Homo sapiens: one gene and its partners. The protein of the gene in region 1 purifies or fractionates together with the protein of each later gene. This does not show direct contact. Each region holds a gene or a part of one and is shown in the gene's direction. Other genes may lie near its edges. The genes, in order: GJB7, EEPD1 and CSNK1G3.

Region 1 (3,661 bases):
CAAACCTAAAACTACTTGTAGATTTATGGCTCTTATGCATCTATATTTACAAAATAAAAATTGAACATTACAAAACGAGTACAATTAAAATAATTAAAGTTTAACAGACAAAAGACATCATGTTGCTGAAACTAAATCACTGCTCATTGAGAGAACCAGCTACTGACTATAGAAGCCTGATTCTTTGAAGCTAGGCTCACTTGTTCTGTGGGCCAGGTAATGGCTTGTTTGTCGTCTACCACTCGTCTCCAATCAAACTACTAGCAGGCTTCATTCCTGCTGTACATCTACCCATCGTGGCTTCATTTATTTGGCTTTCTCTTGAGCATACCCGTTATGTGTTGTTTCTCATAGGCTAAAATAATTAAAGTTCTGGTACTTGGTTCCATTATGATTTTAAGTACTATGTAAATGTTTTGTGCAAAGGGCGAGATAGTAAATATTTTAGGTTTTGAGGGCCATACTGTCTCTGTCGCAACTACTCCACACTGCAGTTCTAGCATGAAAGCAGCCATCGACAACAGTAAACATTTAGGCGTGGCTGAGTCTCAAAAAGTGTTATTTACAAAACAGGTGGTGGACTGGATTGGGCCTGAGTGCTGTGTAGTTTGCAGAATGCTCATAAATATGAGTGCAGAAATGCTGAAATCCTCTGGCAGTCCTTAAATATGAGCTGGTCATTCAGCTTTTTTGCTTTTCTGTTTGTTTTTTAAAAGCTTAGGAATATGAACGTACATATAAACTTCTTGTAGACACTTAAGAATATAACAACAAACCCTCAGTGGGCCACAGATCCTGGGTTTGGGAAACACTGTTTTAGGGATTTTCCAAATAGGCCATCTTCAAAAATAAAAATGCCTCATTCAGATGGGGAATGAGAGTTTGCTAGTGTCAGCAGGCACAACAGGACTCAGAGATGGAAAGATGCCCCTGGGAGGAAATGCTTTTCTTCAGGGGTTAGATGATTTGTGTGCAAGGCAGAACAGAGTTATGAATGTACCAGAGAATCCAGCACTCAGGGGAGAGTAGAAACTAGCCAGGCAGAACTTGGGTTCTTCTACTGCTGGATTTGCTACTGACTTATTGGGAGTGTTGGATGAGTATCCCACCTCTTTGAGTTTTTCAGTTCTTCCATCACTAAAATGAAGGTTGTACCATACATCCTGCTTACTACTGAGGATGGAGGTAAGCATTGGATGAGATGCTGTGAAATGCTGCATAAATGGTCAAGTGCCCAAGGATGAGCATTTTGTTACTAAGAGGTGAAAGGAGCTGTGTATGAAGGCTGAAGGATTTTTCAGGGAGTGTCGCTGGCAGTCTGCAAGGCAATTGGAAATCCAGTGCTCCTCGAACACAAGTTTCAAACCAGCACTTTTGGGGAATGACGAAGCAGCTCTCTGGCTCCCAGCAGTGCAAGGGCTTTTTGGACAGTATTTATGCAGGTAGCCTTGCCTGTCTTCCTCCCAGAGGCCAGCTTGACATTGCCTGAACCTCGCAGGAAGTTAAAGCCTCCAGTGTTGGGCAAGAAGTTGCTGGTGTGGCAAAGCTCATCCTGCAATAAGAGAAGAACAAGTGGGCTGCTCAACAGGGGTTTCAACAGTGTCACCACAGTCAGAACTGGCACTCATTTCCAAAAGTTCAGAAAGTCAGGCACATTGTTTACTCAATCTATTCTAAGGGATTCATCCACATGAGCCAAGCCCAGAGACCTGATCTATAAAATGCATCTCCAGGAACTGGAACTCTTGTATCTAATTTCAGGAGGACTTCCTTGCACAGCATAAACAATTTCAGCATGAAAAAAATTATTACTCAGAAGCTTGCTTGGTAAATTGGCGTAATGAGAATCAATTGTTATGTGTAGTATCTGAAATTCAAAATTTCCTGTGCATTCTACATTTTTGCTTCATCTGGCAACTCTAGTTCCTTCTCTTAAAGAACATGTGGTCTGTACAGATATTAATCACGAAAACAAGTATATGATTACAACTTATAAGTGGCATGAGGGAAAAAAAGCCAACATAATGAACAAGAATACCAAGGAAGACCTAATTTAGATTAGTGGGGTCAGGGAAAGCCACTCTGATTCAGGTTAAGGGGACCAGAGTATTGCAGGAAGGAGGAACAGAATGGATGTAGTGTCTAAAGGAGAAACTGAAGGAAGGAAAGCATGTCTGGAATCCAGTATCCTTTGGAGATGTGCAAGACAAGGTTGGAGATGCAGGCATGGGCACCACTACACAGGCTATTGTTGTCCAGATAAGTGTTTGGCCTTTTTTCCCCTACCCTCAATGCAACAGAAAACCATGGTAGGGCAGAGAAATGAGAATATACAGTCTCCATTTTAAAAGTTAATCTGAATGGATAATGGGTTGGAGAGGGCAAGAATGAGAAACAGAGTGACAGATAGGAAGCTATTATGGTGTTCCAGGCAGGAGATGAAGGTGGCATGGATTAGAGTGGTGGAAGCGCAGATGAAAAGAGTGAAAAGTTTTGGTATGTATTTCAAAGGTAAAAACTTTGGCCTTGAATGTAGATTGGATGTGGGGTTTGAGGCAAAGAGAAGGATGAAGAATGACTTCCAAGTTTCTGGCTTCAACACTTGGGCGGATGGTGGTGCAGTTTACTGAAGCAGAGAACACTGAGAAGGATCAGTGCTTTGGATGGTGCTTCATAAAGTGAAGAAAGTACTGGCAAGATTTCACTTTTGAATATTTTAAGTTTATGAGATGACATCCTATTGGAGATGATAAGAAGGCAGCTGAAAGTCAGAGATGAGAGGTCCACACTGGAGATACATAATTTGGGAGTCATTGACATATATGTAGAGGCAAGAAAGATTTAAAAGGATTCACTATATGATTTTCCGACATGGTAACCTTCCAGATGTCCGTTAATTGGCTTGCTTTGTAAACATTATTCTATAAACAGCTTTCTCCAATTGTTACAAGAACCAAATATATACATATGAAAGAGTGATAGGTCTCTGATTTCATAGTGTTTATTAGGTTTATTTTTTTCAGATTTAATTTTGTATATTCTTATTGTAAAGAATAAGAATGCCATTGTCTTTCCATCCTTTGAAAATAGGGGCCAGGCACGGTGGCTCATGCCTGTAATCCCAGCACTTCGGGAGGCTGAGGTGGGCGGATCGCAAGGTCAGGAATTCGAGACCAGCCTAGTCAATATGGTGAAACTCCGTCTCTACTAGAAATACAAAAATTAGCCAGCCGTGGTGGTGGGCACCTGCAATCCCAGCTACTTGGGAGGCTGAGGCAGGAGAATCGCTTGAACCCGGGAGGCGGAGGTTGTAGTGAGCTGAAATTGCACCACTGCACTCTAGCCTGGGCAACAGAGCAACACTCCATCTGAAAAAAAATTTTTTTAAAAAAATAGGATGGACATTTATAAAATAAAAGTCATAATTATGACATTTGATGCCATCATCCTCTGATTATATTCAAAGATCAGTCACTTTTTTTTTGTTGCCTTTCTTTTAGCAACACAGTCTCTTACCTTCCTCCTACCTCTAAAATGCCCAACAAGGTACTTTCAAATGTTTAGTAAGATTACATAAATATCCTCTTGAGTAATACAGACAAACGCCCAATGATACATGTCATAGGGAAACATATTTTTTCCTTTTTAATCTTTGGGGCTT
Region 2 (3,661 bases), on another chromosome or scaffold:
GGAAAATTAGTGAGGAGAAAAGCAGGTCACAACGTTTCCTTGGCACTGACCCAGTGGCATGCTCTCATCACTGAGAGAGGGACTCCACACTGGGTCAGGGAACTGGACTGGGGAGCCCTTGAATGCTCTCCCTGCACTGCTGTGTCCTCTCTTTTGCAGCCTAACTCACTCCTTCTGCAAAGTCTTCTTGTGCACAGGTGAGAGCTGTACTCGGCACCGGGAGATATTTATAAAGAATGGCTTGATAATTGTTCTCTTTATCCATAGCAGCATGGGCGTGTGAATGGGAAATGAGGAGGGGAGAGGCAGGAAAGACAAAGCTGCTTAATTCCTATTATGCTTTCTAGTGGCTCAATTTGGGAGGGGGGTGATGGATTAGGATCAAAAGTTGGTCCAGTGGGACTGACCAACCAGGCAGCCCCTGCCTATTTATTATGTCAGTGGTTTCTAAAGTGTGGTCCCCCCTGGGGACCAGCAACATCAGCTACTGACTCAGAAACTTTGTTTCTGTGTTTTAACACACCCTCCAGGTGGTTCTGATGCACACTAAAGTTTGAGAACCATTGTACTAGGTGTTAGGCAATCAGCTGTCCCTCTGTCTCTTGGAAGCCCCTTCCTCTGGCAGGGTTAGTGAATTCATGCAGAACTTTCCAGGTCTAGTCGGCCCTCCATACCTGTGGGTTCCACATCCATGGATTCAACCAACTGTAGATGGAAAATATTCAGGAAAAAAAAAAGTTGTGTCTATACTGAACATGTCGAGTTTTTTCTTGTCATTCCCTAAACAATCCAGTATGGTAACTATTTACATAACATTTACATTGTATTAGGCATTCTAAGTAATCTAAAGATGAATTAAAATATACTGGAGGATGTGCATAGGTTATATGTAAATAATATGCCATTTTATATCAGGGACTTGAGCATCATGGATTTTGGTATCACAGGGGCTCCTGGAATCAATCTCTGCAGATACCAAGGTACAACTGTCATTTTTATTTTCCCCTTTGATTGTTTTGATCATCCTTATAATTATTCAACCTTGTGATATTCTTTCTGACCAAGCGTTGAGGAGCTTATTCATCTTCTAGGACCTATGAATGTGAAGGGTAGAGAATAGGAGAGTGAGCAAAGACGGCTGGCCTCAGCGCTGGCTCCACCCTGCAGCCCACTGAGCAGGAGACCTCACGACTCTTGTCCAGTGTGAAGGTTGTCCTGTTTTTTTCTTCTTTGGGTTTCCTAGAGAGATGATGATTTGCTGAAGACATTGAACTACTGTCGTCAGGCAAGAGTACAGGAAAAGTTTACCCAAACCCACCAGGGTGTAGAAGGGATCACCTGTAAGTGACTGGGAAGGTGACCCGCACCGTCACATTCTCACTCTTGGCCAAATGTGTTGGAGGTTGATGGTTCTCTTTGCCTGGTCACAATGGATTCAGTATTCCAGACACTCCTAGCACATTGTTAATGTTTAGTAAACATGAACTAATGGACTCAGGGCCTGATCCCCTTCAGAGTAGGGTGAGTGCTTTGTCTGTATGACTGTCCTAGGGTATCAAAAGCTGTCACAGAGTAGATCTCGTGTCCTCAATGATAGCAGCACCCATTCTCCAAGAGCTGTGTGTTCGTCCTGATTCACAGAAATCTCTCCCCTTCCAATTGTTCCCGTATTAGTAAGAGGAAATACATTTAGTATGAGCAAGAATGGGTGCAGGTGATTTCTGGGTGGCTCTTATTTACATCCATGTGTACCTGTAATAAAAGAGTTTCCTAACTTTTGGGTATGCCTTCGTGCTTTCTAACAGCTTTCCCATTTACTTGATTTTCCTAGTAAGTCTGGGATGTAGGTAACACTGACTTTTATTAATGATTCTTCATCTCTGGGTAAGGAAACTAAAATCAAGTAAGTTAGATGACATGACTCTATCAGGCAGCTCCTTAGTGACTCAGCTGGGACTGCGACCCAGACCTTCTCACTTTAGACCTATGCCCTTTGCAAGCATGCTGTGTTTTGTAAGCACGACACCTTTAACCTGCCTCTTGGTTAGACACCCATCCTCTCCCTCATCAGGCGCACTTGCTAAATTGTGAGCCAGTCACAGTGTCTTAAATTAAATCCATTGTAAAGGGATTTTAAAGATACCCTTAGGCAGTTCCTTTGCAAAGGGAATAGCTGGCTGTGAATTTGCTTTAGTAGGTGTGTTTTCTTAGGCTGAAGGGTAGCTGTATGGGATGGGAGTTAGAGTCTTCTCTTTAACCTTCTTACAGCATGTGTGAGCTATAAGAAACTGTTTTGCAAGTGAGGCGTGAGGTAGGACAGCATTATTTGATAATCATACAGTCACCAGGAGCCTTCAGGGATGCCATGCTGGTAGCACAGAACTGACAGGTTTCATTAGATTATTTTGCCAAATCTCAGTCTTAGGCAATACTCTTCCTTGTTCGGTATTTATGGAACAAGATTAAAGGGGAATGTTCCTGCTAAATATGCTTGCAAAATTTGGAGGTAGTCCACATCTGGAATGAAAATTGGTTAATATTTCATTTTTACTTATTTATTTTTTGCTGGGAAGTCATTCTGTTTTGAGAGTCTCTTTGGTTATTGAAAGTATAAACCCTAAGGGAGCTGAAAGATAATCTCCAAAAGAAATAAGAAGATTTAACATCCCACTTGCTCATTTTCCCTGTGGCCTACATAAGAAGAGAACTTGAGTGTCAAAGTCTTTAGCCCTGTAATGGCTTAAATCAATTTTTTTGCCACATGTCTGTGATATCAAAGCACAAGGTGGATTAATGCCTAGCAACAAGCACTGATAGTGAAAAAAGATTTTACTTTATTAGACTTGATTAGTAGGATCAATATAAACATATCCCATCTTGTCATTTGATTCATTCATTGAAAAATATGTATTGAATGTCTGCTGTGTGCATATATAAGCTAATTTCAGGGATCAGCTTCGCCCTGTTACTTACCAAACTTAAGTCAATGTAGATTAGTTTGTGTGGCCCAGCCTCAAAACAGTCTAGTAAACCTAGAGTTTTGGGGCAGGTCAAAAGGAGTGATTGATACATGGTTGTATTTTTCTCATATGAACAATAGGCTCACCCTGGGAGGTTGAAGGGTGGGTGGATGCAGCCAGACGTAACATCTGGGGACAGAATGCCCATCAATCCTCTTAAAGTAGAAATTGTGAAATCCATTTTGACACTTTTGGAAACTGAGGCTCTGAGAGGTTAAATAGCATCTGTGTGGCCTTCAGAAATGTAGATATTGGAGTCAGGATTTGAAGTTTGTCTACTTTCAAAGCGGAGGGATTAGGCCAGATTAGGCGTGTCTTTTCCCAAACTCCATGCCCTTCTGCTGCCTCTGACTCCCAGCCCACCCACATTTCCTCCCTGCCTTTGGCTGGCCAGGTATCAGGGTCTTGGGGAAAAGGAGGGCTTCCCTACAACCCTGAGATTGTGTCAGGCCTCTGGGGGCCTCTGTTTTTTCCCGTTTTTGTTCCTCTAAAGGATGGGGCTTGAGGCCAGAGGTAGAGCCAATCCAAAAGGCGTCAGGGCTCCTCCACCCAGCCCCTCAAGTGTGAGTCTGTGACCTTGGGCCTGACTCCAAGATCAAGTTCCAGTTTTCTGAGCCAAGGAACTCTAAGGTGTTTCTAAA
Region 3 (2,348 bases), on another chromosome or scaffold:
GCCATGCAATGGTGTCTGTGTAATTATTTTGCTCTTTGATTAAAAAAAAGACCCCCAGCAATAAAAAGTGGGTCACTCTATGCCCTCTGTGCACATTAGTCTCTTGTATTCAACTTTGCTGATTCTCTGGAATTTTCCTACTCTTTAGCATAATTTTGATGATTGAAAAATATTTTGGAAAGGATGGGTCAGGTGCTTTGCCTCCATAGTCTTTTGAAGTGCCTGCATATGAACAACAACAACAACAACAAAAAATTCTGTAAAAAAGGAAGCCCATTCCACTTTTCAAGTATGCTTTGTTTTAAGCCATAAAGACACACATGTAGTTTTGTCACATTCTACTAGCCAAAATTTTCAAGAAGGGTTAAAACAAAGACTGGCTAGAAAGATAATTATTTTGAATAAATCTCATATTCATCTTTCATTTATATAATTGTTACTTATTCCTCCCATGCAGTCTCTTCGTTGTCTTTAAGTGTGTGCCTCCAGGCATGCTTATTTATTTTTATTGTCTCAAGGTAACATTTAAGATGTATATTAAAGTAAAGCTACATTTTTTTACTTCATTATTGCATTTACAGGGATTTAATTGTACTTTGTAATTTATTTTTCTTATTAGCCAAAAGTTTAATGCATTTTTTTTTGATGAATTAGGCACCCACATGAACACCACAAATCAGGACATTGTTTATCATTGTTGCTATGAATCCTATGAATGATCTTTTTTTTATTTTAAAGACCTACACTTAACCTACAAAACATTTGCTGTATAATTTGGTCAACAGTTTCTATCTATCTGTATACTGTCATGATGTCTTAAACTGCAGGAGTTACATACTGAGTTTATATTTTTATTTGCTTTGAGCAAGGTAGATAAACATTTTGGCCATTATAATGTGAAACCACTTCTTCTTTCTTTACAGTATTTGACCAAACTTGTGTGTCTATGATATTTGTAAATACATGCGAATATCTGTATTTCTTATCATAAGCCTATTTAGTTTTATTCTCAGTAGGGTTTTTTGGATTGTACAGTGTTTATATGATCTGAACTCCTTATACATAAGAAGGTGTGTATATTAATCCAATTATGGACTTAAAATATTTTAAAAGTATAAATACCCTTATTTGCTGCAAAGACCAGTGTGTAGGCATTTGCTTTTTAGCAATATTTTTAAGTGCTCCATTTTAATGCCGAGGAATAAGTCTTTTGGCAACACAAACTGGTCAATAATAGGTAATGCAGGTATGTTCAGGTTAAGCCAACAATGTTTTGCATTTTTATGCTTATTTTCTGTCAACACTAATGAAGTCAACATTGCCTGAATGTCTGAATAATGAAACACATCCCTGTTTAAAAGTATGTAACTGAAAAAGAAATAAAAAAAAATAAAAGTAGTTTTTTTAAACTTGCTCTTTCCCATTTCCTCTAAAGATGGGTAAAATAATGTCACTCCCTAATTTAAGATAGGAATTATAAAAATTTGGTTTATTTAGTCTGTTATATATGAGAAGCAGAGCTAAAGGAATATGCTTTTGTTATTTTATGTTTTGTTTTGCTTTCTTGAAATCCAGTGGTAAAAAGCACACACTAGGAAGGATCTAAGCTTTCTTTAATATAAAAAAAATTATACTTCTCTGAACTGTTTAATAGAGCAATAATTAAATACATCTTCTGATAAATTAAGGGAAATAGCATCATTTTTCCTTTTTGAGAATGGAATCATACTATTATGTTCACAGAAATTAAGCATTATTCCAGTTTTAAGTGAATGACTTTAAAATCATTGTAGATGGGGAGCCCATATTTCTAACAGTATCTCATAGTTCATCATTGTGCTAGGTGCTTTAAGGGATTTTACAAAATGGCATTAATGGTACGCTACTTACTGAGGGATGCTACAGGTAAGAAAAGGCAAAGCAGCCCTCTCTCACCCTGTGAATATTGTGTCCATTAAGCAGCAGAGACCTTCAGAAGCAGGAGAAAGATCTGGAGATGACACAAAACTGTTAAAGGCTCTATTTAGAAAAATTCGACTTTAAGATTGGGATTTCAGTCTGAATGAATGTATAGTTGCATTAGTCAGAACTCTTTGAATTGAAAGTGACAGAATTTAACCTGGCTTGAGCAATAAGAGTGTACATTATTTCATTTAACTGAAAAGTTCAGTGGTAGGACTGCCTTCAGACATGCTTAATCCTGGAGTTAAGACAGGAATCTTCTCCATATCTTTTGGTTTTGCTTTCCTACCCTGCTGTTTTCACTGTCAGGAAGACTTTCCATGTGTCATGGTAAAGTGGTCATCCAGCAGCTTGAGACTTCTACCCTACCATCTTAGTAGTCTCAG

What was found.
Region 2: the proteins of GJB7 (region 1) and EEPD1 purify together in Homo sapiens (affinity purification with mass spectrometry; 2 studies listed by BioGRID and IntAct, with this or other methods). This does not show direct contact.
Region 3: the proteins of GJB7 (region 1) and CSNK1G3 purify together in Homo sapiens (affinity purification with mass spectrometry; 2 studies listed by BioGRID and IntAct, with this or other methods). This does not show direct contact.

What each region holds. Positions count from the first base shown.
Region 1 is NC_000006.12:87,287,631-87,291,291, reverse strand, and holds part of GJB7 (gap junction beta-7 protein), read left to right. Parts: intron 1-3,661.
Region 2 is NC_000007.14:36,156,253-36,159,913, forward strand, and holds part of EEPD1 (endonuclease/exonuclease/phosphatase family domain-containing protein 1), read left to right. Parts: intron 1-3,661.
Region 3 is NC_000005.10:123,615,363-123,617,710, forward strand, and holds the end of CSNK1G3 (casein kinase I isoform gamma-3), read left to right. Parts: 3' UTR 1-1,687; downstream 1,688-2,348. UniProt on the Homo sapiens protein: Serine/threonine-protein kinase. Casein kinases are operationally defined by their preferential utilization of acidic proteins such as caseins as substrates. It can phosphorylate a large number of proteins. Participates in Wnt signaling.